Linked DNA regions of Homo sapiens. The protein of the gene in region 1 interacts with the protein of each later gene in a biochemical or structural test. Each region holds a gene or a part of one and is shown in the gene's direction. Other genes may lie near its edges. The genes, in order: MKRN2, CSDE1 and IGF2BP3.

Evidence for each region.
Region 2: the proteins of MKRN2 (region 1) and CSDE1 form a complex in vitro, tested with the Homo sapiens proteins (one study listed by BioGRID).
Region 3: the proteins of MKRN2 (region 1) and IGF2BP3 form a complex in vitro, tested with the Homo sapiens proteins (one study listed by BioGRID).

The regions. Positions count from the first base shown.
Region 1 is NC_000003.12:12,576,844-12,584,561, forward strand, and holds the end of MKRN2 (E3 ubiquitin-protein ligase makorin-2), read left to right. Parts: intron 1-4,964; coding exon 4,965-5,109; intron 5,110-5,272; coding exon 5,273-5,410; 3' UTR 5,411-6,870; downstream 6,871-7,718. Other genes in the region: RAF1 (RAF proto-oncogene serine/threonine-protein kinase), read right to left, coding at 7,671-7,718. UniProt on the Homo sapiens protein: E3 ubiquitin ligase catalyzing the covalent attachment of ubiquitin moieties onto substrate proteins.
Region 2 is NC_000001.11:114,725,221-114,736,811, reverse strand, and holds part of CSDE1 (cold shock domain-containing protein E1), read left to right. Parts: coding exon 1-54; intron 55-2,288; coding exon 2,289-2,370; intron 2,371-2,694; coding exon 2,695-2,823; intron 2,824-2,954; coding exon 2,955-3,080; intron 3,081-3,995; coding exon 3,996-4,208; intron 4,209-6,163; coding exon 6,164-6,304; intron 6,305-6,389; coding exon 6,390-6,554; intron 6,555-8,991; exon of another isoform or gene 8,992-9,092; intron 9,093-9,721; coding exon 9,722-9,829; intron 9,830-10,425; coding exon 10,426-10,601; intron 10,602-11,478; coding exon 11,479-11,591. UniProt on the Homo sapiens protein: RNA-binding protein involved in translationally coupled mRNA turnover.
Region 3 is NC_000007.14:23,338,452-23,350,042, reverse strand, and holds part of IGF2BP3 (insulin-like growth factor 2 mRNA-binding protein 3), read left to right. Parts: intron 1-2,308; coding exon 2,309-2,443; intron 2,444-3,980; coding exon 3,981-4,103; intron 4,104-6,189; coding exon 6,190-6,325; intron 6,326-7,853; coding exon 7,854-7,979; intron 7,980-11,591. UniProt on the Homo sapiens protein: RNA-binding factor that may recruit target transcripts to cytoplasmic protein-RNA complexes (mRNPs). This transcript 'caging' into mRNPs allows mRNA transport and transient storage.

The DNA.
Region 1 (7,718 bases):
TCCTCTCTTCCTTCTCTCAGGCACCATGCTGGGCTCTGGGATGCAGCAATGAGCAAGGACATGGTGATGTGGACCTGTTTAGTTTTGGTGTTTTTTTTTTTTTTTTTTTTTTTTCGGTGAGATAGGGTCTCACTCTGTTGCCCAGGCTGGAGTGCAGTGGTGCAATCTCAGCTCACTGCAGCCTCAGCCTCCTGGGCTCAAGCAGGAGCCTCTTGAGTAGCTGGGGCCACCAGTAGTGTGCGCCACCATGCCCAGCTAATTGGCTAATTTTTTTTGGTAGAGACAAGGTTTCGCCATGTAGCCCAGGCTGGTCTTGAACTCCTAGGCTCAAGTGATCCTCCTGCCTCGGCCTCCCAAAGTGCTGGGATTACAGGCATGAGCCACCGTGCCCGGCCTCAAATGTTCCTCTTTATCCTGGTTGTCAGCATGTTGATATTTTGCCTAGGAGTGGAGTGGTTTTTCTCTACGCTTATGTCACTCCCCAAGATGAGCGAAATTTTAGCTATTGTTTCATTAACTTTTTTTCTGTCTTGTTTTTTTCTTTTCCTGCTGGGACTCTACTTCCGTTTATGATAGTTTTTTTATATTGTTCATAGATCTCTGGGGATATTCATTCTTTTTCAATCTTTTTTTCTTTTCATCTCCTTGAACATAGTTGTAGCAGCTACTTTGAAATCCTTGTTATCTTGAAGTTGACCTCTGTTGTCTTTTAAGAATGGATCACATTTTCCTGATTCTTCGTATGTCTAGTAATTTTAGATTTTATCCTTGACATTGTAAATATTACATTGTAGAGAGACTTAGGATTCTGTTATGGTTTATCTGTAAAGTGATGATTTTTTTTTTTTTGAGACGGAGTTTCACTCTTGTTGCCCAGGCTGGAGTGCAGTGGCACAATCTCGGCTCACTGCAACCTCTGCCTCTCGGGTTCAAGCGATTCTCCTGCCTCAGCCTCCCGAGTAGCAGGGATTACAGGCATGCACCACTGCACCTGGCCAATTTTTTGTATTTTTAGTAGAAACGGGGTTTCACCATGTTAGCCTGGCTGGTCTCAAACTCCTGACCTCAGGTGATCCGCCCACCTCGGCCTCCCAAAGTGCTGGGATTACAGGCATGAGCCACTGCGCCTGGCCAAGTGTTGCTGTTTTTAACAGGCAGGTAAATTGTTTGAACTCAAACCCAGGTAGCAGTTCAGATCTCAGTTCTGGTTTTGCATTCGTAGCTGACTTTGTCGCATTCCTGTGTGGTTTGGGAGTTAGTCAGATTTGGGCAGAGTTTATACACAGCCTTTGAGCACTTTTTCACAGGCCCCTTACTTTGTGGGATTGCTTCCTCACTTTCCAATGGCTGTGATTTCCTTGAACTCTTGTCTTTTAGTTCTTCAGGCCAGAAAGATTGGATTTCCCCTTGGAGTTTTAGCCACCCCATGTGGTTATGATTTTGGCCTGCTCCAGGATAAGAGCTACTTCTTTTTTTTTTTTTTTTTTTTTTTTTGGAGATGGAGTCTTGCTTTGTAGCCCAGGCTGGAGTGCAGTGGCACAGTCTCAGCTCACTGCCACCTCCGCCTTCCAGGTTCAAGCACTTCTGCCTCAGCCTCCCAAGAAGGTGGGACTACAGGCGCATGCCGCCACGCCTGGCTAATTTTTGTATTTTAGTAGAGACAGGGTTTCACTGTGTTTCCCAGGCTGGTCTTGAACTCCTGAGCTCAGGCAATCCACCTGCCTCGGCCTCCCAAAATGCTGGGATTACAGATGTGAGCCACAAAAGCTACCTTTTTTAAAAAAGGTAACTTAGCCTTTGCCATTGCTATTCTTCTTTGTGTTTACTCCTCCAAAGAATCTAACTGCGTTTGTTCATTCTCTGGTGCCTTCAGGTCTTCTTGAAATATTTGTGTTAAGACTTATCTGCAGGAGGGTTGGGTATGGCAGGCGTTTACTTGTCATACTAAAAGTGAAACTATGCATTACCTTTTTTAATGGTTCCTTTATGTTGCATATTAGTTTACTAAAGCTTGATTTTTTTTTTTTTTTTTTTTTTACCATTTTTTCCTCATACAATCTTCCTGTGTGTCCACAAGAGGGCAAGGCGTGGCAAGCAGAGGGGTCCCAGCTTGTAGAAAAGGGCCCCAGCCTGTAGAAAAGGGTCCCAGCCTGTAGAAAGGGGCTCTGCTGAAAAGCAGTCTGGAGATTGTTATTGCTATTTGGATCTTTCCTTGCTTTGCTTTCCTTTAATGACTGTGTTTTTTGCAATCCACAAACATTTACTGAGTACTCACTATGGGTCAGGTACCTTCTAGCTAAGCACCACTGGGGGATGTAGAGATTAGTAAGACAATTTCTTTTTTCTTTCGAGTCTCGCTCTGTCACCCAGGCTGGCAGTGGCATGATTTCAGCTCACTGCAACCTCCGCCTCCAGGGTTCAAGTGATTCTTCTGCCTCAGCCTCCCGAGTAGCTGGGATTACAGGTGTGCGCCACGACACCCAGCTAATTTTTGTATTTTTTTAGTAGGGATGGGGTTTCGCCATGTTGGCCAGGCTGGTCTTGAACTCCTGGCCTCAGATGATCTACCCACCTCAGCTTCCCAAAGTGCTAGGATTATAGGTGTGAGCCACTGTGCCCCGCCAAGTAAGACAACTTCATGGGAAACTGCAAAAGGGCAATTATGATACAGGTTTGCTGGTGACCAGTTCTTCATGAGGGACCATCTATCACAACAGAGAAAGCACTTGGATCCACCGGGGGCTGCCAGGGGAAGCAGCATGGGAGCCTGAACCATGAAGCAGGAAGCACCTGTCTGTAGGGGGAAGTGATGGAAGGACATGGGCACAGAAGGGTGTAGGTTTTGTGTCTGGGGGACACTGGGAGTGGCTCCTGGCATTGAAACAGGTGTGTAGAAGGATGTGGTGGGACCTACAGACTGGAATCTAAGGGACACTTGAATCCCAGTGTGACCATGGTCTTTAAGAACAGGTTGGGGCCAGGCGCAGTGGCTTATGCCTGTAATCCCAGCACTTTGGGAGGCTGAGGAGGGCAGATTGCTTAAGTCCAGGGGAGACATAGGGAGACCTCATCTCTTTAAAGAAAAAAAAAAGGTTGGGAAGCTCCTCCGTGCTGCTCTGAAGGTGGAAACTGGTGGGAGTGGGAGGGAGGCCAGTGAGGAAGTGGCCCTGGCAGGCAGGCCCCAGAGGCTTCCACAAGTGTGGGAACCCAAAGGAAGGGGAGATTGGGAAGTGATTTGTAAACAGAATGAACACAGTTGGGTGTGAGAGCCGAGGACACAGAGTGAGTCAGAGTGAACTGGAGGCTTTTGGCCTTGGTGACCAGATAAGCCTGGGGGAGGAAAAAGAGTAATATTCTTGTGAGAGTGGGGGACCAGTATATAATGTGTTTGACCTGATCGAGTTCATAGCCAGTGTGCTAGGATGCTCTGGAGTTGTCCAGCAGGCTCTGGTGAGAGCAAACTGCTCACGGTCATTTGAAGTCCGCTCAGAACTCCAGGCAAGCAGGGGCCTGGAGGATGTGTCGTCCACACACCTGCTCTCCAGCCACCTGTGCTCAAATCAGATCAGCTGGCCAGGGAGCTTGTTCTCTCTCCCCCCACCCTACCCCCCCGCCACCACCCCCAGTGAGACGAAGTCTCACTCTGTCTCCCAGGCTGGAGTGCAGTGGCACAATCTTGGCTCACTGCAGCCTCCACCTCCTGGGTTCAAGCAATTCTCCTGCCTCAGCCTCAGCCTCCCGAGTAGCTGGGATTACAGGTGCCAGCCACCACACCCAGCTCATTTGTGTATTTTTAGTAGAGATGGGGTTTCGCTGTGTTGGCCAGGCTGGTCTCAAACTCCTGACCTCAAGTGATCCACCCACCTTGGCCTCCCAAAATGCTGGAATTACAGGTGTGAGCCACCACACCCGGCCAGAGGGCTTTTCTTTATGCTGCTATGAAGCCGTCCTCAGAGAACTTCACCACCGGCCTGCGGCCATCCCATCTGACAAGACGGAAAACCACTGGATTCAGGAGCCTCCTTTCCCTGTTCTTGTCTCCCGCTGTCACACACCCCAGCTGCCCCTGACAGCAGCGTGCCCTTTCTGTTGTTTGGCTTTATTTCTGTGACTTTCCCCTTCCTCTGTACTCCGAGATGGCCCTCTGGATTCTTGGGTATCTTTTTTTTTTTAACTTCAGTTTGGGATCCTTTATGATTGGATAAACCAGAGTTCATTTGAGCAAAATGGGAATTCATTTGATTGAGTTTCCTTGGGCAGGGTTCTTAACATAGAGGTCTGTGGGGAGAATGGTAGAATTAAGAGAGAGGGAAAACATTTTGAACTGTTTGGTCACTGTATGCTGTAGACCCATGTTTTATGCATTGAAAAACACTGTTCAGAGAAGGGGTCCAAAGCACATAAGGCGTGAAGAAGCCCTCCCTGGTGCCGAGGTTGGAGACAGGAAAACTGGAAGGAGACCTATGGCTTTAGGCAGTTGCTAAAACCCTCTGCTTTCCCTGTAGCCACCTTGACAGCACTGCGGCCAGGAGGAAGGGGAGAGTTGGCTTGGTGGGGTACCTAGGGAACTTTGAGCAGAGACAAGTGGCCCAGCTTCAGAGCTTAGTGCCCAGAGGAGTGACCAGGCCTGGCTTAGCTCTGTGGTGACCCAGGAGGTGCTCTGGAGCTGCCGGAGGGCCTGTGGAGCACTGCAGTCTCCACACAGCAAGTCCCCAGGCAGGTTAATATCCTTTGCAAGGCTGCAGGTAAGTGGGGATACTTCCTATCCTGCTTGGAAATCAGAATCCCAGCTGTGTGTGACCTGAGACAAATCACTCAACCTCTCCCAGCCTCAGCTGCCCCACCTAGAATGTGAGGCTGACCTACCTCTGGCGTAAGGGTGGTAAGGATGGAGGCAGGCAGTGGCCCAGTTTGGACCCCTCATTTTCCCACCAGCCTCTTGACTTTTTCTTTCTGCTTTTCAGGAAAAAAGCCTGTAAATACTTTGAGCAAGGCAAGGGGACCTGCCCATTTGGAAGCAAATGTCTTTATCGCCATGCTTACCCCGATGGGCGGCTAGCAGAGCCTGAGAAACCTCGGAAACAGCTCAGTTCTCAAGGCACTGTGAGGGTAAGGACTTTAGCCATCTCTAGTTGGGGACACTTAGCAGCTGTGGGCATTTCCAGGTACCGTTCCTGGCAGAGAAATGGGGTAGGCAAAAGAACGATCAAGGAACGCAGCCTTCCTGTTGCTCTTAGCAGTAACCAGGCATGTCCACTGGCTGTTTTTGCAGTTCTTTAATTCAGTGCGGCTCTGGGATTTCATCGAGAACCGAGAAAGCCGGCATGTCCCCAACAATGAAGATGTCGACATGACAGAGCTCGGGGACCTCTTCATGCACCTTTCTGGAGTGGAATCATCAGAACCCTAAAGAGTAGATGGTTGCCCTGCATCTTGGGCTCCATCGGCCGAAACTTTCCCAAGCCAGGGTGTGCGGAGCTTCCCTGTACTGCAGCCAAGGTGACGTGTGACTTGGATTTGAGTGGAGTTGGGCTTAGCCTTAGTCTCATTCAATCTCCATTATTACAGCCATGGGGAAGAGTGAAAGATATAAAGTAACCTAATTAAATGTATGGAATTGCTATTTTTATAGCTGATATAGTTACACCTCAAGCCCCTCAGGGGTAACAACTAACAAACACCCAAACTGTTTGGATTGATTGCTTTAAAAAACAAACCTGGCTCTTACCTTTGATCTTTTCTTCCCCAGAAATAGTAAACTTGCAGCTGCCCCTAATGCAGCATATTTTTCTTACCAAAGGAGTCTTCAGCCCTATAAAAGGATTCCTCTATAGTGTATTTCTCTAGTGTATTTAGTGTGTCGTCAAAATTTTGATTTATACAGAGCTTTCAAGAACACACAATGCAAAGTGAGCGCAGCATAGCTGTTAACAAACATACAACTTTTTTCTAGGGCTTTAAGGGTGGTCATTTTTTTCAAGTTCTCTCAAGTGTCCCAAATCAGGGTAGCAATCTTGTTGCCACATGTGCAGCAAACAAAGTGGAAGTATAGATCTTCTTCTCCCTTAGGGAGGCTCTTGAAGGAGCAGGAGGTACAGTACTGGGTAGCAGTCTGGCCCTCCTGTCGTCTGGTTGGTGTTGGGGCCTCCAGCCAGGGCCCTCTAGGGGAACCAAGCCTCTGCTCTCACCTGTGGGTTCTTGCCCATCAGGGTAATTGTATTGAGAACTCAAATATACGTGCACTTACATGTGTGGTTCGTACTCAAGTGATCTATTATCTAGCTGCAAAGCCTGGCTTTGATTTGAAATTTTGTAAAAATTTCATGGCACCCAAGGTTTCTGATTCTGACCCAGCAGTGGTCCTGAAGAGAGCTGATGGCAAGTCTTGTAGTCATTTTGATTTTAATTGAAGGGTGAGCATAACCTTGTGAACCAGCACTAGCTTGTTCCAAGCTGGAATTTATCTAATCTATTTTTGTGTTTAAAAAAGCTGTACCTACCAAATAAATAAATAGTTTATAAAATGTATTACTTAAGGTATTAGCTGAGTTTAGAGTACTTTCTGCTTAATTAATTTTTATACTTAACTCTTCAGTAGAGGTTTACAAAGAGTACAAAGGTTAAATTACAAATTCATTCCCAGCCTAGGCTCTGGGCACATTTCCTGTTCTTGAATTCTGCTCCTGAAGAGGGTGAACAAATGGGGCATTCAAGTTGTGAGCTCAGAATTACTTTAAAAGGAGGTAACAGCCAGCCATTACACCTAAATTTAATTTATTTTATTAAAATAACATAATTGAGGGACCATCAGATAACTGTATTTTGTCAGGTGCAATAAAAACAAAATTAAAACCCAAATCATCAAGAAAACCTGTATTCCTGGCTTCCTTGTATACACATGATGTGACTAGAGAAACAAGGCTGTTTGTTTGTTTGTTTGTTAGAGAAACAAGGCTGGCCCTGCGGCCCCGCCCCATAGGGGCAGCTCCTGGAAGACAAAATTCAGCATGATGGAAGACTGCTCCCTGAGAGGGCTGAGATGCGGATTGGCCGAGTGCCTTGCCTGGAAAACCATCCCAATGCACTGGACACCTTAGAAGCTGTGAAAGGAGGACGTGTCCCCTAAGAAAAGTTCCATAGTACCAAAGCAGGCTCCTTCGGGCGGCCAGAGTCTCGGCAGTCCTGGGCTGTTTGGTGCCTTATGTGCAAAATGTCTGGCGCTGCACCACTCTCTGAAGAAAGTCCCGCCTGTGACATGCATTCCTCCAGAAGCTGATTTCCAAAATCCCATGTGTCTCCACATCAGGGCTGGACTGCCTGCTACCTTACTTCCTCTAAATACTCATGTAGCCAACAGCTGGGGCTGGGCCCCTGCTTTTTGTACTACCATCAACATCCACTTGCGCATCTACAGAAGGCTGGGCCTTGAGCATGGGGAATGTGGGGAGGGAGCAGGACACACCAGCACTGCAAATGGCTTCCTTCTCCCAGGGCCCAAAGGGATAGAAAAGAAGGCAACATGAAGTTAAGGCCCTGTGAGCAGTCTAGAAGGTCCTTAGCAGCAGCTTCTCTGAAAACATGTGTTCTGCCTCTGGAGAAAGGGAGCAGAAAAGTGGTGCCTGCTGGCTTCTCCTCCTCCCCTGGCAGCCTGAAGACAGGTGCAAAGTCAACTAGAAGACAGGCAGCCTCGGGGACGTGGTCAGCGTGCAAGCATTGAT
Region 2 (11,591 bases), on another chromosome or scaffold:
CGTTCAGCTGGAAACTGGAGATAAAATAAACTTTGTAATTGATAACAATAAACAGTAAGTTCTTTTTTTTTAAATTTTCTCACCTAAGCGGTTTTTTTTTCCCCCCTCCATTAAGAAATTTGAATAGAGTTAAAAACCTAACTTGTAAGTCTGGATAGTTTTCATGAACTTTCAATTCATCAACTAATGCTTTGAGGTCTATGAATATTGTATTACAGCCATGATGCAGGGTCTCAGAGGAAGATGATAATTAAAACATTGTTAGGCATTTTAAGGACTTGTTCTAGAGATCAGTGAAGGTTTTTCAAAAAATAGTGCTTTGAGGTAAGTTTTGAGGGAGGGGTATAGTCACTATAGAGAGGTGAGAAAAAAGCATTATGATTAGAAGTATCATGACATGTTGGGGGAAAATGGCCAAAAGTTTGGTCGAACTGACCAGAAGGTAAAGTTTGAGCATTCTTCTATGTAGGAATCTGCGTTGTTTAAAACAAGGAAGTGTGATTGGTTTAGATCTTTGGAGGTGGTGGAAGTGGTAGACTTTTGAAAGGTGGGGATGCTGTTGACCAGAGGCAGTGATGTGAGAGTTAACGTGAAAGATGACCGCCTGATATGGATAGACTAAGAGGATGGGGTGGAGGAGTCAAGTCATATTGAGAAGATAGAATCATCAATCTTAATTGATTTGATAAAGGTGGGGTTGGAATTAAAGGGAGTCCCAAATACTGTTTTTCTGGCCTGGCCTACTGGGCAGATGATGGTACCATAAACTGGGCTAAGGAGACATAAGGAGAATGTTCAAGGTGGGAAAAGAATCATACTTATCTTGGCAATTTTTGAGTGTGAGATGTTTGTGATATATCTGGGTAGAGATATCAAATCTACAGTTGCGTGTATAGGTCTGAGACTTAGACCTATTAAGTCTAAGGTCTATTTCCTGCCTATAGGGGAAGTATATAGAGCTGTAGAATTCATCAGCATACACAGTTAAGGAAAATGTAGTTAAGAAAGCCCAGGGAGAATATTATTTTTATCTTGGCATAGGAGAGATGAGAGATGCAAGAGGAGAAGGAAATTAAAATAGAAAGTTGGAGAAAGTGCTAGTAATGTACCTTCCAGTAGCATGTGGAGGGAAAAGTCCTAAGAGCATGTCTGGGATTATCTGCCTTGAACCTTATCTCTTTCTTGGCAAGCCTTGAAGGAATCAGATTGTGTTGTAGGTGTGGTTATTATTAGTTACAGTCTGAAGGCCTCAATTTATATAGTTGTTAATCTCAGAACAGCCTTACCTGGTAAGTTTCTTCATCTGTAAAATGACGTATAAGTTCTCACAAAGTTACTTGTCGATGTTCATACTGCTTTTAAATAGCAGGCATTTAAATTCCCATCTGACTCTAAAGCGTTTTCACTGCAGTAAGTTACAAAAACAGGTAGAATTTTTCTGGTGTCTTTGTTAGTCTGTAACATTTTTTTAAATAAAAAGCACATTTTGGGTTATTTGTCTGTGAAAAATTAAGGGAAGTAATTGCTTGGTGTATAGGTCTTTTCTTAAAACATTTAGACTAACAGTACCATTATGTCTTATACAGTCTATGTTATCTTAAAAACAAAATTGAATTTACATCGCTGCTACACAAATATGAAGGCATAAAAGCAACATGTGGTGTCTCTAACTTGTTTCCATTCTCCAATGGAGGTGGATATCATTACTTTTAAAAGCATAGCAAGTTCTCTTAAAGTCACTTCATTTACTCAACTTTTATGGCTGTTTACTCAGAAATAATTAATGAGATAGCTACTAAATTTAGCACTCACTGAAAATAGAGACCATCTCCTATTTATCTCTGTATCACCAGTACCTTACTTTGCCGCAGATTATACCTACACAAATGTTTGTTTAATGAATAACCTTTATAAGACTTTAGTATTCCCCACCTTTGGTAGCATTCGCTTTGTGGCTTTATTTCAGTTATTTTGTTGAAATAGAAAAACAGAGTAGAACATCACGCACCCATGTGTAAGTTTGTAAAAAAGCAAATCTTCCAACAACAGTCCCAGAGAAAGATGACCTATATATATATTTGCCAAACGTAGAAGGCTAAGGAGTTAAAGTCCTTTGCATATAAAGCCATATGAAAATAATCAAATGTCATAAACCCTGTATTTATTCTTAGTGATGATAGAATTCTTAAAGCCCCAGGAAACTAGTTTCTTTAGACTCATATCTAAGCAGGCCAATACATTTTTAATCCCTGTTTCATTCCTCCTCCCTGCAATTATTTTTTTTCTAGTACTGGTGCTGTAAGTGCTCGCAACATTATGCTGTTGAAAAAGAAACAAGCCCGCTGTCAGGGAGTAGTTTGTGCCATGAAGGTAAGTGTTAAATTTGAGAAACTTGAGTTTTCTTTGGCCACTTGAAATGTTGTACTTCAAACTCCAGCCTTTGTTTTTTTTTTTCTTTTTTATCTTACCCTTTTAAAATATTTCACTGTTAACCTCAAAAGTAGTCTCTTAAAATTCCTTGGTTGCTAATACATTATCTTCTTTAAAATTGGCTGTTTAATTGATAATATTAGGTTGTACCAAATTATATTATTGTGACTACAGTATAATTTTACAAAAATTACTGGTTTTAAGTTGTAATCATAAATTTGTACAGAGTGGTAATAATGTTCTTGGTTTTTTATTTTGCTTCAGGAGGCATTTGGCTTTATTGAAAGAGGTGATGTTGTAAAAGAGATATTCTTTCACTATAGTGAATTTAAGGGTGACTTAGAAACCTTACAGCCTGGCGATGATGTGGAATTCACAATCAAGGACAGAAATGTAAGACAGTCAGTTAACTTGATCTTTGGCCTTTTAAGATCAGAGTTGGTTTATGTTTTTAAGAAACACTTAAAATTATGTGATTCTTCCTTCCTCTGTCCCCCCACCACCTCCAACCCCTTCTGATTTAGGGTAAAGAAGTTGCAACAGATGTCAGACTATTGCCTCAAGGAACAGTCATTTTTGAAGATATCAGCATTGAACATTTTGAAGGAACTGTAACCAAAGTTATCCCAAAAGTACCCAGTAAAAACCAGGTAAATAATCTTTTTCAGGAGAGTCCTATTTCGCCTCAGTAGTAATAGAATAATATGGTGTGGTATACTGAGATTTTATCTTATTCAGTTAATATAATGTGGTAGTGGAACAACTAAGGACCTCTTGTTACGTATATTTAAACTAAAAGAGAAACCAGATTTATATATTCATAAATATGGTGTTTTTTTTTTTTTTTTTCTTTTTTTGTGACAGAGTCTCGCTCTGTCGCCAGGCTGGAGTGCAGTGGCGCGATCTCGGCTCACTGCAACCTCCGCCTCCCGGGTTTAAGCGATTCTCCTGCCTCAGCCTCCCAAGTAGCTGGGACTACAAGGGCATGCCACCACACCCAGCTAATTTTTGTATTCTTAGTAAAGACGGGGTTTCACCCTGTTGGCAAGGATGGTCTCGATCTCTTGACCTTGCGATCTGTCCACCTTGGCCTCCCAAAGTGCTGGGATTACAAGTATGAGCCACCTCGCCCAGCCAAATATGTATTTTTTTTTACTGGGTGATGAAAAAAGGCCAAAGAAGAAAATGCTAATTAAATTGGAAAGCACCTGATTGGATTAGACTGCAGTTCAGGTGTACATTTGTTCCCTCCTCTGCCCCTGCCCTACCCCTCCAGTTTGTGGGGAAGGTGAGGACACAAGTGGTGTCATTCCTGGAAAAATTCCTTAAATAAAATCTTTTGGTACCAGAGTGCTGGGTCTTAATTGCATTGTTGTAATTTTATGGTTGACTCGTGTGACCATAGACCATGAAGCTTTCACATTGGACTTATGTTGTCAACACCTTTTTTCGCTTCAGGGAACTAAGTTAAAAATAACATGGGTTTACTATGTGTTCTTCTTGTTTGACTTAGAACTAGGAAGGATGAGAAATCTCCAGCTAAAATCGTTTTTCCTTCTCATCAGAATGACCCATTGCCAGGACGCATCAAAGTTGACTTTGTGATCCCTAAAGAACTTCCCTTTGGAGACAAAGATACGAAATCCAAGGTGACCCTGCTGGAAGGTGACCATGTTAGGTTTAATATTTCAACAGACCGACGTGACAAATTAGAGCGAGCAACCAATATAGAAGTTCTGTCAAATACATTTCAGTTCACTAATGAAGCCCGAGAAATGGTAAGTGTTGGATATTACTGGATATGTATCTAATATGCGAAAGCCAATGTTATATTCAAGTTTATACTACTAAATTAAAATTTTTCTTAAGTTAAATGACCCTAATGGGCATTTACCTTGTTAAGGTGATTAAGAATCATACACATTTGAGTCAGTCTGGGTTATCTCTGGCAGTTATCTTGGAAATATATGTGAAAAAATTTTTTGAATGGAAATCTGGACAGGATTACTAAGATATTTTTAGAGTCAGTGATTCTCAGGCCCTTAATATGAAGAGTAAGAAAATTCAAGTTCATCATTGTAGAAAGTAGATTTTCCCAAACTATTTCCTAAGACATTTAATTAGTGGTTTCTGTTTTTAGGAAACACAATTCTTCCTCCAGTGTGGTCCAGGGAAGCCAAAAGATTGAACACCCATGATCTAGACACTAGATCACACATAAAATACACTAACAGCAATGATAGCTGATGAGCTTTTTTAAAAAAAAAATCATAGGCACGGTGGCTCACACCTGTAATCCCAGCACTTTGGGAGGCTGAGGCGGGTGATCACTTGAGGTCAGGAGTTCAAGACCAGCCTGGCCAACATGGTAAAACCCCGTCTCTACTAAAAATAGAAAAATTAGCCAGGTGTGACGGTGGGCACCTGTAATCCTAACTACTCAGGAGGCTGAGACAGGAGAATCGCTTGAACCTAGGAGGCAGAGGTTGCAGTAAGCCAATACCATGCCGTTGCCCTGCAACCTGGGTGACAGAGGAAGACTGTCTCAAAAAAATAATTGCAAAAACATCTCATCATGTTTTAAGAAGGTTTAACAATTTGTTGTGTTGGGCCACATTCAGAGCTGTCCTAGGCCATGGTTTGGACAAGCTTGCAATTAAACCAGAGTCAAAAAGGTTTTGTTTTGGCAGAACTTCACAAATTGTTTTTTAAGAGTTTGTGTCTGGGAGTGGCATAAACCAACCAGATTTTTTCCCAAACATGTTTTATGAACTCATTTTCTCAGACATAATTTGCATTTAGTTACGTTTGGGATCATATCATCTACACTATAACTCAGTGTTGCCAGTGGAACTGGGTACATTGAATGAAAATTTAAGTTTCTTGAGTTTTTTTTAATCCTTTGCCTTTGAAGAACTGGTTGTATTTGACACAGTGTATTTAACTTTAAAAGTTTGTAAGTCTGAATGTGTGATTTTTTTTTTTTTTTTTACATTTTCAAAGGCAAGATCTGTTTTGCTTTACGGTATGGAAAATATAACTTGGCTACTGTCAGGACTTGGCAAGGATTAAATGTCAAAATATTGTTTAGGTCATATTTAAAACTTACAGAATCACTTCTGCAGTGAGCAGATATGTAGTATGTAATACAATAGCAGATTGATAATTTGTGTTCATTGTTTCATTAAACATGAGTATCTACCATGTTCCAGGTACTCTTGATACAGTAAGCCTTACAAAGCTGATAATTTAGTAAGAAGGAAAAAAAAAAAAGAGAAAAGATTGCATATATTTTATTCTTCAGATGTAAATTTTAACTCTTTCCTGGGCCTAAACTCATGCAATTTTTGAGGTAGAGACTGGAGAAGTGCCTTTGTCTACTTTGGAATTATGGTCTGTAAATTAGTGAAGTTTCTGGAGATTATATTGTCATTAGACTTGGGCTTTTATGAAATACATTGTGTTCACGTGTTTACGTTCACATGTGGTAATTTTTTCTAGTGCATATTTGCCAGGAAGTAGCAATTGGAGAGTCTTAGAAAATTGCTCAGGTTAAGTTACTTTGTTGAAAGCAATGAGTTTGTACTTAAGTGAGAACAGTTCAAATGTGGATACAGTATTTGTGTCACATCAGAGAAAATTCCTGATGAATTTAACTTGATGGTGGTTGTAAAGTTGAATGTTGCCTTCTTGACAAGTTTCACAGCCAGTGAAAATATTATTTGGGTTTCAGGGTGTGATTGCTGCCATGAGAGATGGTTTTGGTTTCATCAAGTGTGTGGATCGTGATGTTCGTATGTTCTTCCACTTCAGTGAAATTCTGGATGGGAACCAGCTCCATATTGCAGATGAAGTAGAGTTTACTGTGGTTCCTGTGAGTTGTTTCTGAGAAAAGTTGGGAGGTGTTTCTTGATGCTTTCTTTTTCAATTGAAAGTTAATTTTGTTTTATCATTTTTAGGATATGCTCTCTGCTCAAAGAAATCATGCTATTAGGATTAAAAAACTTCCCAAGGGCACGGTTTCATTTCATTCCCATTCAGATCACCGTTTTCTGGGCACGGTAGAAAAAGAAGCCACTTTTTCCAATCCTAAAACCACTAGCCCAAATAAAGGCAAAGAGAAGGTAGGTTTTGCATAATCCAAATGATTTTTGTAGCTGTTTATTTCTCTTCTGCTTTAACAGCACATAGTAATAGAGTACATATAATCAGCGGAAGTTTGTCTCTTTCAGAATTTCTGTCATATTAACAGTGAACTAAACAAAGTAAGGTTTCTTAACCTTGGGATTATTGACATTTTGGGATGAATGATTCTTTACTGTGGGGGATGGGATGTTTAGCAGCATTTCTGGCCTCTACCCACTGGAAGTTAGTATTCTGACCCCTTTTCCCTGCCTCCCATTGTGACAGCCAAAAATGTGTCCAGACATTGCCAAATGTCCCCTGGGAGGCAAACTCATTCCAAGTAGAGAACTAGTTATATAAAATGATAGTACTGTCTTCCAGGCAATTTAAAACTTTCAAAGTTGGGTGTATCCTCAGTTCACACATTTAAATTTCATTTATTGAAAAATCCACTAAATAGGAAATAGAAAGATGTCTGAGATGAATTCTCCTTTCAAGTTAATAACAAATTGAGAGTTTTATAGAAACAAGTAATTCATATAGAATATAAAATATTGCTATTGAAGGTCAGCGATAGTGCTCTGGTGAAAATTAACTGGTAGGGTATGTGATGGTTTTACTAACAGATGGAGACAGGAAAGAGCATTCTTCACAGAGTAAAAGTATAGATGAGAAAAATTCAGGGTTTCTTTAGGAAGCAATGAGTAACTAGTCCGACAGGAATTTTTTTTTTTTTTTTTTTGGTTTTGTGTGTGGGTTTTTGTTGGTGAGGGAGGTTAGGAGAAATAAGGATGAAAAATCAGGATCCAGCTAGACTGGGAGGGTGTTGATTGCTGCTCTAAAGAATTTAGACCTTATTGTCAGGTGCGGTGGCTCACACCTGTAAACCCAGCACTTTGGGAGGCTGAGGCGGGCGGATCACGAGGTCAGGAGATTGAGACCATCCTGGCTAACATGGTGAAACCCCATCTCTACTAAAAATACAAAAAAATTAGCCGGGCATAGTAGTGGGCACCTGTAATCCCAGCTACTCGGGAGGCTGAGGCAGGAGAATGGCGTGAACCCAGGAGGCAGAGCTTTTAGTGAGCTGAGATGGCGCCATTGCACTCCATCCTGGGCGACTGAGTGAGACTCCGTCTCCAAAAAAAAAATTTAGACCTTGTTCTGTACTTCAAGGAAAAGATTTCTTTTGGATAATGACATCAGGTATGTGCTTTGGGAGAGTAATGGCAGCAATATGAAGCCTAGATGGGATGGAGAAAGACAAAAGATGAAAAGGATTACTATGAAATTACTTGGATAGTTAAGGTAGTCCTTGAACTAGGCACACAGATAGTGACTATAGACAAGTGAAGGTACATGAGAGATACTGGAAAGTCATGTTATAATTTAATAATTGCTATTAGCCAGAAAGAGCAAGGCTAGTATCTTGCTTATCACTTACTGTAGCTTGGGAAATTATTTCACCTCTGAGCTTCAGTTTTTAAATTTCAAAAATGATTGTGTAATAGTTTAAAAAGCCCTCGAAGTACCTAGCTCATAATAGGAATTTCGCATGTGACAGATGATACTGTTAACAAAAATAAAAATACACTTCAGTTGGGCTTATTTTTAATAACTTTTAATTCTTGGAATGCTCTGCTTCCCAAATGTGTCTGGCAAAACTGGCTTGATGAAGAGAGCCTTTGTGTGAGACTTTCCCTGCCATTTTTTGTTTTTTTTTCTTTCTTAGTCCAACAGTACCCTAGTAAATCCTCTGTCATCATGCTTCTTACAGTATATAACATTTACCTGTTAATGAATCTGTCTCTGCTGCACTGGACTCCCTCAGGGCAGGGATTCTCCTATCTCTATTTAATATATTTGATGTATAGTATATTGTCAGCTGTTGATGTTGAAGTTGGTGAGTTAAGAGCAAAAGGTGAACAGTAAGCTTTTGAGTTTGGTTGTGGAAAAGTTGATGACATTGGAGTCAGACCTGAGTTCACTGACATTGTTCTTAACCAAACTCAAATCCTCTGGATTATTTTGCGCTGGGTTTTGTAACCTTGGTAAGGTTTACTTAATTCCTCAGATTTCCCCAATTTGTAAAATGAGGGAAAAGAGAAACTATGGAGATGATTTTGTACAAGATTAATTTGATAATACATAATACCTGGTAATGTTGTAAGTGTTCAATAAATTATTATATAGCAGTTATGGAAGGAATGTGATTGGTAGAAGAGGAAAATGAATTGGTTTTGAATATATCGTAGTTTGTAATGAGGACTGGAGTTTAGGAAGGAAGTCAGGGCTAGAGTAGGGACATGGGCATTATCTTCATAGAAATGTTGAAACCATAAAATCAGTATAATTTATGTAGTTGCTGTACACTGTCATTACTTAACGGTGTGATTCAATACGACACACCTGAACTTTCTTAGACTTTTATTTTTTTAGTCAAGTGCAGTAGTGAGAAGGGGGGAAAGAGGAGAACAAGGAAGTTCGATCTGTAACTGACTGAACAATCGAGATAACCCACTACCTTCAGACCAGCCCTTAGATTTTTTAAGAGTTAATCATTCTTACACGTACGATGACTGAAATGTTGTTTCTCCTTGAAGTCTGGTATTAAAAAAAATTGTTGAAATACTAGTATGTCATAATTTTTAATCATCTACTTTATGTCAAGTACTTGAACTGTGCTAGATCATACACCAAATTATCCTGCATTGTTAAGTATATTGATTGACATTATATATTAAATACTGTGCAAGGTGCTGTGTGCTACTAAAAGAGGATACTTCAGCAGCTTCTTTAGGAAATACTAAAGCTTCTTGCCCTTATAGAATTTCCACTTCCTTGGAAGTAACATGCCCAGTTTAATTTCTGATTGGCTATGAGGAGCGCAGGTGTATTAAACATTTTCAGTAAGCTTTTTTCTCCTCAATAGCAAAAATTAGATTCTTAAGATTGAAAGACCAATTAAAAATTACAGCAGACTGAGCTAGGCTTAAGGCAAGACTACCTTTTATTCATATGAATAATCTTTTAGAAAATGCTGGAATAAGACATTTTTACAGCTGTACCAATCCTTTGGCACAAGAATATGTAAGAACTATAGTTGTTTTTATTGGTTTTTGTTCTTGAGATTGTTTTCATTCTGTTTTTGACTGTATCTCTTTAGGAGGCTGAGGATGGCATTATTGCTTATGATGACTGTGGGGTGAAACTGACTATTGCTTTTCAAGCCAAGGATGTGGAAGGATCTACTTCTCCTCAAATAGGAGATAAGGCAAGATAATTCTGCTCATTCGAGAGAGGGTTAAGAGTTGTCATCTTAATCATAAATCCTGCAGGATGGGTTCTTCAAATTTTATCAAGTTTTGCTGAAATATATTTTGTGTTTAAGAGAAATACATGAATATCTTGTATTTGAAAGCAGCTTATTAAAAGTGTCTGTCAAGCTCTTTGTTAATCAAAGCCTTGTTAATCTAGCTGTTTAAACGTTAGATAAAACATGCTTAATAAAATCGTTATTGGTAAGAAAGTTAAAACAGTTACTACTGAAACATTATCAAAGTAAAAGCACACCAAAGATTTTACGTTGTTGTTCATTTTTTCTCATACTTAATATGTTTGGTTTTTGGATAGCCCTCTAGAGAAATTCAGAATCTATAAGGAATACAGACTGAAAGATAAAAGTTTGATCCTTTGTGAAAAGTGGGATGAGACATAAATGTTTTGGTGAAAATCAATTTCATTGAAGTAATAACAAAGGATATTTGGAATGAAAAGCATGCGCTGGGGGAGTTATAGGTCTTGTTTTCTGAGTTAAGGAGATTGGTGTGGAAGTGATATGGTGTTAATGAGCATCCTTAATTTTCACAGGTTGAATTTAGTATTAGTGACAAACAGAGGCCTGGACAGCAGGTTGCAACTTGTGTGCGACTTTTAGGTCGTAATTCTAACTCCAAGAGGCTCTTGGGTTATGTGGCAACTCTGAAGGATAATTTTGGATTTATTGAAACAGCCAATCATGATAAGGAAATCTTTTTCCATTACAGGTAAGGCGTGACTTTCAGGAACTTTACAGCTAACTTACCATCCATTCTTTGGTGTTGGAATAAAAAACATTTAGTATTGATTGATTATACTTGTTGAGGTTCAGATTTCATATTGGTAGAATTATGGCAAGATATAAACTGAAGTTAATCACTGATCTTACTATATACAGAGCCTGTGGCCAAAAGAAATAGAAAGGCCTGTGCCACCTTATTTTTTGTGTTGGTACCATAGAGTTGGCCATTTGGTGTATAATGTAGTGTAAGAGTAAGGGGTCTGACTGGGTGTGGTGGCTCATGCCTATAATCCCAGCACTTTGGGGGCTGAGGCAGGTGGATCCCTTGAGCCCAGGAGTTCGAGGCCAGCCTGAGCAACACGGTGAAACTCCATCTCCACAAAAATTACCAAAATTAGCCTGACATGGTGGTGCATACCTGTAGTCTCACCAACTCAGGAGGCTGATGTGGGAGGACCACTTGATCCTGGGAGGCAGAGGTTGCAGTAAGCTGAGATCGCACCACTGTACTCCAGCCTAGCCAACAGAGTGAGACTCTGTCTCAAAAAAAAAAATAGAAAGTAAGGGTTCTTAGAACCAGACAGTTCAGTTTTTGAATCCAGGCCCTGCCACTTTATACCTGTGTAATTTTTACCAAATAACTTCTTGGTATCTTAGTTTCATTATCCTGAAGTTAGGGATAATGTTACCTCTTCATGGGGCATTCTTGAGGATTAAATGAGTCAATACATAGAAATTACTTAAAATGGTGTCTAATGTAAATAAGCATGCCATGCCATGACTGTTACTGTAAAATAAAGACTGCCTGTTACTGTTGATGTTTATGGTAATGTTTAGTTAAATGTCATTTCCTTTCTCCTTAGTGAGTTCTCTGGTGATGTTGATAGCCTGGAACTGGGGGACATGGTCGAGTATAGCTTGTCCAAAGGCAAAGGCAACAAAGTCAGTGCAGAAAAAGTGAACAAAACACACTCAG
Region 3 (11,591 bases), on another chromosome or scaffold:
GAGATGTTGGGTGCTGGTTACCTGAATGCAAAATTAATCGCCCTGACCTCATCATGTAGGAGTGGGAAAGACAACTGGACCATAACCTAGTCAGTCGGCCTGGCTTTAATCTTAAAATTTAAGGGCTTCTTGCTTCCCTTGATCCACCGTTACCTGCAGAAATTCATTATATGGCTTCCCTTCCTTCTCATGTAGCAGATTAGAATTGTTCCTTTTCGAGCTACTCATTTCCCTGTCAGATGAAAGAGCTGTGACTTAAATTGAACTGTTTGTTTTACTTAAGGCAGGAAGATGGGGATAGGGGAAGGGAAGCAATTTTTGTTATATCCGATGATTCATTTGCAGAGCTCTGCCAGTGGATTTAATTAACTCTTGACATTGAAATTAGTCATTATCAGAACCTCGTTTCTGGAATGGTCTCAGAGGGCCATTCTAATCTCCAAAGCCACATTCCTTTCTCTCAGGGGATCGGAGCTTAGTAATCCTTAGCACAGTGAAAGGGTGAAAATAAACTGCAAAGAGGGATGCTAATGTGTTGCTGGAAGACAGGCATCCCTGAAAGTGACTGGGGATTGAAACAGCAGCCGGGAAGATGACTCCTAAGATTGGGACTGTTATCTAAGACACTATTTTTTTATTAGTTATTTTTAGGTAGCCCTTAATTTGTTTCATGCCCTTATTTTTAGTTTTATCTTTTACTCTTGAGGTAAATCTTCAGATTTCAACCAAACATTTAGGAAAATGAAAGCCAAATCTTGATTTTATTGGCATGATCAAGTGGTCACTCTCATGGCCATGAGTTATTTAGCCCTTTAAGTGTTTGAATGGCCAAAGGAACTCAACAAATACTTAATTTTCCCAAAAACACATATTTTTGAGTAGCTAATTTTCTTTCTTGTACTTATTAAAAAATGGCAGGCTTATTTTATATTTAATTCAAAACATATAAATATGTAAATTAAAAAGTTACCATTCGTCTCACCTGGGTAGCTGTTGGTAAGTTGGGGATGTATCTCTATAGGATTTGTTGCCTGTATCTACTAACATGTGTGACTTTAAAAAAGAAATCATGTCATGATGTGAATTGCATTATTTCACTTAAGGACTTTTTACTGTGTTGGTACTTGTAATTTTACCACATTTTCAAAAACATCTGTATGATATGAATATACTGTTATTTAACCATCTCTTCCCGCAATTAGATAATTCTAATTTTCTATCTGTTAGAAACGGAACTTTCCCATGCCAGTGGTTCTCAACTACAAATGATCATCTCTCTGCCCCAACCCCCGTAGACATTTGGCAATGTCTGGAGACATTTTTAGCTGTTAGAGTTGAGAGAGAGGCATGCTACTAGCATCTAGTAGGTACAGGCCAGGGAAGTTAGTAAATTTCCTACAATGCACAAGACACCCCATCCACAACAAAGAATCTGGCCCAAAAAGTCAGTAGTGCCAAGGGTAAGAAACATCACTCTTGACCCATGTATGAGACTATATCTGTAGATGTTACCAGGAGTAGATGTTACAAGAAATACAGTTCTTGAGTCACAAGGTGCTCAGCATTTTGCTGACCAGTTTGCTCCTACCAAAAGTGTTGAGTGTGCCTTGTTACCCATCATCTTGCCCATATTTAATTTTTTCTATCTCAATTTTTGCAAGTCTAGAAGAAAATGACATTCTTTTAGCTGGCAGACATATAATTACTAGTGAAATTAAACATCATTTTGAGTTTATTGGCCACTTGCTTTTCTTGAAGTAGAATTGCCATCTGTCCAGGTTCCATTCCTATCACTGTTCGTTGCAGACTTTCCTCTATCAAGGAGGCAAAATGTGGGAAGAACCTTGCAAAGGGGAAGCAGATTGGTGAAATCTGCTCATCCAATGAATGAAGAATGATATACTGTGCAGAATAAGCAGTTCAACTTGGCTTATGGGATTCCAACTCCTCTCTTGGCATGCCCTCCAGTTCCTATTTGTTTTAGAGCAGATTGAATCCAGGCTCTTTGTCATGAGACATTTGTTCTGTGGCATCTGAAAGGAAGCTGTAAGCACAAACAGCTTGGGTAGAATGAAAAGATGTCCCCGCTTGGTTGGATTGAGGAAAGAGAAAGGGGAATGTTCCTAGAATTAAAATTTGCCTCTTAAGGCATTAATGTTGACAGCTTATTGAAAGTTTATGCTCTTGAGGGAAGTGAGTCATCTGCTTTGCCCTGAAGCCCTATGACTTTGCATTTGGTAATTACAGACTCCACTGTGAATACACGCTTACTGCTCTCGTTTTCCTCTCTGCTTGCGCCCACTATCAGAATCGATGTCCACCGTAAAGAAAATGCGGGGGCTGCTGAGAAGTCGATTACTATCCTCTCTACTCCTGAAGGCACCTCTGCGGCTTGTAAGTCTATTCTGGAGATTATGCATAAGGAAGCTCAAGATATAAAATTGTGAGTAAAGAAGATTGTCCTGTGAAAGAGGTTGATATTTGTGCTCTTGTATTTTTGACATCTCTGACACAATTCTTGGGAATTGCCAACAAACAGAGGGAAATGATATCCTGATGAGCTACAGTGGTTGGCACTGTTGATCTGGTTGTGAAGTGTATGTCTTTTAATATTTAAATATTTTCATTCACATTTGAACATAGGCGAGTGGTGATAACGGGGAAGAGAAATGCAGCTATAGAAGAAGGCAACTTGGGGAACCTAGGACCAGGAGGTATCCTGGATTAACCCAAAACAGGAGCCCCAAATCTTGACTCATCCTTTACTCGGAGCTCATTGGAGCTCTGTTCTTGTCCACTGCCTGGCCCCACCTTGGAGCAGCAGGGAGTGTGGAGGTGGGGAAGTGCCTAAGTCTCTTCTAAGGCAAACTGGAGATTTATCTGGGTAATGCAGGCGGGAACTCTATTTCTTCCACAGGAACTTTGAGTGAAGGTTGGGTTCTGTGCCACGTTTAGCGTACAGAACAGCGCTGCACTGAAAGTAGAATCGAGAGTAAGGCACTGGAGTTAGTGTGGGGACCTCATTACCAACCTTAATTTGTAGAGAACTTTAAATATGTTTTAGTAATATTATATGTGGGTGCCATATCATAAGAATGTAATTATTAAAGTAAAAATTTTAAAGAAGAATTATTTTAGTATAGAGAAAAATAGGCCTGGTGTGGCGACTCATGCCTGTAATCCCAGCACTTTGGGAGGCCGAGGCGGGTGGATCATGAGGTCAAGAGATCAAGACCATCCTGGCCAACATGGTGAAACCCCGTCTCTACTGAAAATACAAGAATTAGATGAGCGTGGTGGCATGTGCCTGTAGTCCCAGCCACTTGGGAGGCTGAGGCAGGAGAATGGCTTGAACCCGGGAGGCGGAGGTTGCAGTGAGCCGAGATCGCGCCACTGCACGCCTGCCTGGCGCCAGAGGGAGACTCTGTCTCAAAAAAAAAAAAAGAAAGAAAAAGGAAAAGCCCACCATCTATTAACCACAATGACATTTTAAACAGTTTTATATATATATGACTGGGAAATTCAGAAAGCTACAAAATGAAAAGTGAAAGCTCCCCTTCCTGTTCTTATGCCCTTCCCCCAAAGTGTAACCACTGTTGTTTCTTCTGTTTCCTTCTATAAATTATGCACATATCTCCAGGTGTATATTTGTACTGGATGGTACTGTTTTTTATTTGTACGTTGTGTTCTGGTAGTAGGGGTTTAGGAATATGGTTTTGAGTAAGAGACTCCATCACTGAAGATATTTCCTGAAGTGAATAAAATAAGAACTATTTTAGAAGTTAACTTCTGTATTTTTTCTCCCCTTCTATTCATGCATTGCTAGAATGCTGGCCAATTGTCAGCAAGTTTTAAGCTGTACCTAACACAGTGCTTCCCAGATGGTAGGTAGGAAGTAAATGTTTAATGAGTGAATATTGTCTTTTTACCCACGAATAGGTTTACTTATTCTAATTTTATGGCCACTTTTCTATTTACAGCACAGAAGAGATCCCCTTGAAGATTTTAGCTCATAATAACTTTGTTGGACGTCTTATTGGTAAAGAAGGAAGAAATCTTAAAAAAATTGAGCAAGACACAGACACTAAAATCACGATATCTCCGTGAGTGCTCCTTTGCTTTTGAATAAGAAAACTTTCCAACACTGTAAGCTGCATGTTGTGTATTGGGCTTAGCTTCCCACTTTACAGCTGCTTCAGCTAGCCTGTGCTGCCGTACTTACACATGGTTTCTCAAATACAGCTTGCTGCCTGTTAGGTTTCTGACCCGTATTGAAAGCATTATCTGCTTCTGGCAGGAGGAACCAAATGCTTTACATTCATGTTTTCTAAAGCAGTCTTAACTATGTTTTATGACATTTATTCCCAAAGTTGGAATATATAACCCAGTTTATTATCCATTGTCGTGTAACGCATTATCCCAACATTTGACAGCTTAACACAATGTGAACATTAATTGCTCAGCTAGTTTTTGTGGGTTAGGAATGCAGGAGCAGCTTAGCTGGGTGGTTCTGGCTTGGGGTCTCACAATGCTGCTGACAAGTTGATGCTGGCTGTTGGCAGAAGGCCTCAGTTCCTCCCACATGGGCTTCTCCACAGAGCTGCTTGAGTGTTCTCAAGACATGGCAGCTGTCAAGATGGAAACTGCAATGTCTTTTATGACATAGCCTCAGAAGTTATACTCTATCATTTTTCTAATGTTGTTTACACAAGTCAGCCCTATTTGGTATGTATGTGTGGGACTACAGATAACTGGGTGACAGGAATCACCTTGGAGGCAGGCTACCACACTTAGAATCTGTGGATGCTCTGAAATTACGTGGAAAGGTTTTTCTGAGGGTGGCCATTCTTAGTTTCACTCAGAGTACTCAAAAAGGTGGGAAAAGATTGATGAACTGAGGAAGAGTGGTAGGGGAAAGACTGCACGGTGTTTGTGTACAAGGAGTTTTCAAAGGAGGTAGTAAGGAAGCAGGAAACTTCTGTTTGGTTGTAAAGAAAGGGGGAAAAAAACCCCACAAAGTGGTAAATTCAATAAGTAATACTACTTTGTCTTAAATTTACCCCCAGAAAGGGGAGAGTTTTAAAAGAAAAAAATCTCAAAAGTTATTCTAGAAGCAGCTATTTTTAAAACTGTAATACAAAATGCTTGGCAGGGCCAGGTTGAGACTGAATTAGAATTATAGACTTCTTTTTAAAGTAGTCTAAGAGAAATAGTCTTCATTATACAAATGTTTACATTTTTAACAAGTTTGAGGAAAATGTTAAGGAATAACTTCCCATTCATCTGGCTCAAGGTTAGCCTGTGACATTATACTAGTAGTGAAAATGAGAACTTCAGGAAGATGAAGGAGATTTGTACCAATAATCCATATCCTCTCAATTTATGTACTTAGTTCTGTTTTCCATGGCACATGTCTCCCATTGCTTTTCCTCTCAAGGCTGTTGACCAGCATAGGCTTAGGTGTTTTCAGGTATGATATTCAGTGGCTTTTGAAGGTTCAGCAGGACCTAGGTCCCGCAGGGAGTTTCTGAATATTTCTGCCACTATCTAACGTTTTTGTTATCTAAATGGCATCGGTGAACCATTTTAAATTTTAGTCAAGATGGATTGATATTCCTCCAGCCTACTTCAATCTAAATTCTAAAGAAACTGGTAAAAACTAAGTTTAGACACAGGAATTCTGGCTTGTGTTTTTGGAATATTTCCATGCTTTCTCCTTGCTTGGTGACCCAGAAAATGCAATTGCACGAGAATGCCAATTATGCCTAGAATTGGTTAATACAGACTAGGAACATACTTATGAAAGGTTATGTACTTAGGGTATTTGGTTTCCTCAAAAACTATACATCTTTCCAGTCATTTTTTAATTCACTGTTCAATTGTGAAAATGGTTCAACTTTAAGCGGTTGAGAAGTAAGCTTTATTTAAAATATGGACTTGATTGAACTATATGTATCCAGTAATCGTTAGTTGAGAAAATGGGAGGGCAAATATTTTCTTCTCTCTTGCAGCTTTACAGTTTCGGATTTACGTCTTTTGGGGCTTACTCATTTCCCATCATGTTTTACCACCCACTTTTACATATTACCAGGCTCCACAGTTTGTTTTTAATTGCCGTCTGTGGCTGAATTATTAGCTGTCTTCCTCCAATTTTCATTCTTTTTCTTTCCCTTCTTTTTCATTCTGCAGATTGCAGGAATTGACGCTGTATAATCCAGAACGCACTATTACAGTTAAAGGCAATGTTGAGACATGTGCCAAAGCTGAGGAGGAGATCATGAAGAAAATCAGGGAGTCTTATGAAAATGATATTGCTTCTATGAATGTTAGTTTTGTTATGAAGGGCATGTCTTTATTTTAACAAATAGTTAAAACAATGTTTTTAACTGCATTAATATTGAATTCTTTTGTGGCATTATCACTAGAAGTAGTTCTAGTTGATTTTTAGCACCTCAGCAAGTACCCTGGGATAGTAGGGAAGATACTGGCTTTGACATTAAGCTTTGCTGTCTCTGTGACTTTAGCAAATTATTCAGTCTTTGAGCCTTAGCTTCCTTCTGTCTGAAGTAAGGCTAGTGTCTACCTACAAAGGTTAATATAGTACCTCTCTTACAATGTTAATTTGAGAGAGTTTAATATAGAAGAAATGTTACATGAACTGGATTTGAATCACAGCTGAACCATTTATGAGCTGCAGCTCTCTTCTCTTATATGATTTACTCAGTCTCTCTGAGGCTCAGTTTACTCATCTGTAAAATGGGACTACTGCCTACCTTGCATTCTTATTAGGATTACAATAGATATAATGCATATAAAAGTTAATGTTAAGATTACAGGTTTAAAACTTGGTTAGCCATATAAACCTTGGAGATACAAGAATTTCAATTGATAAAACAATCTGTGTAGTGCATCTGAGGCTATTAAAGCAAATTGCTGACATTCCTTAATCAGTGAAATGGTGCTGAAAATGGAATACTTCAAAAGCCTGTCTTAAATTTTAAAGTAAATGACTTTAAAAAATAATTTTTTTTCAATTGGGCCAGTCATCTGAAACACAAAACCTGAGACGAGGGAAATGTGCAAATACTGCGTTTGTGAGAAGAGCCTAGAATGCTAGCCATTTTACACCCCACGTGACTTCTTGCCAACCTGCTTCAATTCTCACTGCTTGGCTCCAAATGTTCTGGAATCAACTGGGATTAAATCTAACCCCCTTAGGCCTTTTAAAAAGATTTTCAAGTACACTCAAATCTCCCTTCCACCGTCTACATTACGTCCTCAACCCTTATAAAATTAAACAAATTAAAATACCCTTTCTGGCTCCTATTTCCATTCCAGTGATATGTTTACTTGCAGTAGTTACATGGGGATGGGTCCTGATTTCCAGAGGGCTCAACTTTGAGGCCTCTAGACCCATGGTTGCTAAGTTTTACCCAGCAAGTAAAGATCTCTTAATAGCTGGTTTGCTTTTCAATGAACCAATCTTACTTGATTACCTCTTCAACTCTGATACATTGCTTTTTGTCTATATTTAGTTTGCCCACAGCATGCAGAATACGGTTTTGTCTAAGTCCTGTGGGCTAGTCATAAGGGAAAGGAAAGCTTCCCTTGAGATATCTTAATGCAGCTGTGGACCAAGGAGGGGGCAAACCAGCACACAGATTTTAAAATACCAAGGGATATAAACAGATGTAAACGATGTACTCAAGTAGAGTCCCATGGAACATCTGCTTTGAGTTATACAATCATTTCTTTATTAGACAAGAGATCAGTTTGAATACTGTCACTTAAAAATGCTCACTTTCCCTTGATTCTTTTAATTGTCAAATTAAGGGGCCTTTTTACTGTTGCAGCTTCAAGCACATTTAATTCCTGGATTAAATCTGAACGCCTTGGGTCTGTTCCCACCCACTTCAGGGATGCCACCTCCCACCTCAGGGCCCCCTTCAGCCATGACTCCTCCCTACCCGCAGTTTGAGGTAAGATAACTGGCCTTGGCTTTCTTTGTGATTGGGCAAAATCTTAATGTAAACCTAGTCCCCGCGTGATCATCTGTTTAGATGCCAACATATGCTCTCCAGTTCTTGCTAATGGAGCCTTCTTATTTGGCCCTTTGTGGAGTAGACATGGGATTATTTTGCAGTTTTTGGATAGCGGGGTTGTCAACATGTGTTTTCAAATATCACAACAAAAGTTTGGGACTTTGAGGTGGCAGGGGAAGAAACTTAGTAATTGTTTTTCTTATTTAAAAAAATTTTTTTTCTTTTTTCTTTTTTCTTTTTTTTTTATTCTAAGTTCTCGGATACATGTGCAGAATGTGCAGGTTTGTTACATAGGTATACATGTGCCATGGTGGTTATTTAAAAGTTTTTGGAGACACAGTCCCACTCTTTCGCCCAGGCTGGAATGCAGTGGCACAATCTTGACTCACTGCAACCTTCACCTCCCGGGTTCAAATGATTCTCATGCCTCAGCCTCCTGAGTAACTGGGATTACAGGTGTGTGCCACACCACACCCGGCTACTTTTTTTGTATTTTTAGTAGAGACAGGGTTTCGCCATGTTGTTCAGGCTGATCTCAAACTCCTGGCCTCCAGTGGTCTGCCTGCCTCGGCCTCTCAAAGTGCTGGGGTTATAGGCGTGAGCTATTACCTGGCCAGTAATTATTAAATACTAAAGGAAAAGATTTTTTAAAGGCTTCTTTCATCTTTGTCACCTGAAGTCAATGGCTTTGAAAGGTCAGGAGTGACTCTGTGTGTTTTCCATGTTGAGTGTACTTTTTTAAACCAAAGAGATAAGATAGTTTTGTGCACAATTATATTGTGTGTGTGCGTGCATACATTAAGCAGATGTTTATTTTGTAAAGAGGTAGGTTATATAAGAAATAAATCTTAGGCCAAGTGCCATGGCTCACACCTGTAATCCCAGCACTTTGGGAGGCCGAGGCGGGAGGATCACCCGAGGTCAGGAGTTCAAGACCAGCCTGGCCAACATGGTGAAACCCCATCTCTACTAAAAATACAAAAAATTAGCCGGAGTGGTGGCAGGTGCCTGTAATCCCAGCTACTTGGGAGGCTGAGGCAGGAGAATCGCTTGAACCCAGGAGGCAGAGGTGGTAGTGAGCTGAGATTGCGCCATTGCACTCCAGCCTGGGCGACAGAGCGAAACTCTGTCTGGGAAAAAAAAAAAAAAAAGAAAAAGAAAAAGAAAGAAATATTTTATACTTGCTTTTTAAGAATAGCAGTTTCCTTGAGGTCAGAAATAGGAGACTAGTGATGGTATGAAAATAATCGCAGCACAGCAGACACCTGATGGAATAAATTATTTTGAAAGTAGTTAATAATTCAGTTGCATTATCGATAATCGGAGGTATTCATGTGACATTCTAGGATCTTCCTTCATGAATTTGTTTTGACATCTCTCCCTTTTTGTTTGGCTCACTTACTTAATATTAATATTTTGAGTGATACCTCTTACACCAATTTGGGGAAATGTCCAGGTGGAATAGGTTGGTGATTCCACTGTATTACTACCTAGAATAAATATGTAGAGTAAAATGACATTGAAATTGTACAGAAAATACAGATGGCTCAGATTGTCCCCCTTTTATCCTTTTAAAAATGAAAATTTCCTTTTCCTGTCCTTGAACCCACCAAACTGATTGGGGTTCTAAGCAGTTGCCCTCCTGCCGTGTGTGTTTCTGCCTTTACTGTCAGCAGCATCTTGTCTCCCCTGCAATTCACCTGCCGTTTCTAGTATGTTTTGGCCTGGAAATCATGTAACAGAATGATAGCCATCAAAATTTCAGCTACAAGTGAAGTGTGCATAGATTCATTACGTGCCCCCTGAAGTGGCTGGCATGTTTTTACTTTGATGCTAAAGGGGACTGGTAGAAAGAACCCTGGAGTCAGAGCCCAGGTCTGGCCCACTGCCTCTGACACAATTTTGTGTCACTGAAGGTCAGACTCCTTGGCTCTGGATTTGTTTTCTCACCTGTATAATAAAAAAAACCTGAACTATAAGAATTGTGTCTAAAGCCTTTAAGGTCACACATTTCTAGTTTCTACAGAATTAAATAATATGAAAGGTTTAAGGAGGAATAGGGGAGAATGAGCCTAAAATAGGAATCTGAGAGTACATCTAGGGACTTAACTTTGAACATGTCCACTAGTTTATGTGTGTGTCATAGGATTGGTTTAGGGCAGGTGTGTCCCCAACACTTCTGTATAAAATGACACTTACTAAAAGGTACAATGAGCTGATCATGTGACGTAACTCTGTGCTAGGAAAGCTCGCATCTAACCCACATTTCTGCTGGTTCCCCTAAATTAGCTTTCTCTCTGGGTGGGTTGCTTAACCTCTCTGTTTCATTCCCAGTTTGTAAACTGAGGTGTCCCTTTAACTCTTTTTTTCTCTCTATACTGGTGACATGTTCCAATCAACAAAGCTTTTCACATTACAAGTGATCACAGAATAGAACATTCTTGGACATCAGTCTTTTACACTTACATGGATGCTTCAGTAGCCAAAATTCCTAGAGTGAACTTGTAGGTAACTATTTTTAAAATATGTAGATAAGACTGCATATTCTCTGGATTTAGTCATTTTTCTGACTTATGGTATAGTTCTGTGTATCAGGTTCCTATGTTAGAAAAATTAAGAATGCTTTGAGAGAAGTGAGATCATATTAAGAACTTATATTTCTCCAGCACTTCTACAGTCTTAAATGTCTGAATGACTTAAATCAGTGGCAGTTTTGTTTTAAGAATGGGAGGAGGAGGTCGGTGATGTTTACTTAAATAAAAGTTGAGCCAAGAGTAAATGTAAGGAAGATGTCACTGGAATAGGTCATCTTGCTTCTCCTGTCATTTAAGCTAAATCAAATAGGTGCAATTAGAAGGAGCAAATGAGAACAGAAGTTGCAGAAGCTGCCAACAGTAAAAACACTGCCACAGGGCAAGAGCTGCAAAGATGTAACAGTCTGGTGGTTTCAAGGACAGGCAAAGGAAATTCGCATTCTTAAAGGAATACAACAACATGGACAGTCTTAACAATCTGTGTTCTTTGCAGAATTCCAGTGGATATTTTATTCTACATGTGTTCCAGGCAGTGATACAATGGAGTTCTCAACTTTATAACTGAATATTTTCCTAAATCATTTATCCAAATCATATATTTCCCTAAATCATATATTACTGTTTTTATTTCTTATTTTACATTGATTGACAATCTGTAAAGTTCAGCATTAATTATTCCCTGCCTTAAGGGGAAAAAAATGTTTTTCCCATACTTAAATTATAATTATCCCAGACAATTTGAATGAAAATCCCTGGGGGTAGGGGTGAGGCAAAGGTATCAATTTTGAAAGCTCCCGAGATGACTCCAATGTGTAGCCAAGGCTAACAACAACTGTTTGATTAGTTAAGAACTTGTGTCCCACTTAAATAAATAAAAATCTCAGTGGGAGCAGGTGGAAGCTCAAAAATGTGTAGTTTCATAAAGGTCATCAGGAGTTTTATGCTACCCGTTTATTGTCAGGAACTGTTCTTTTCAAGAGATGGGGACTCACTATGTTGCCCAGGCTGGAATTGA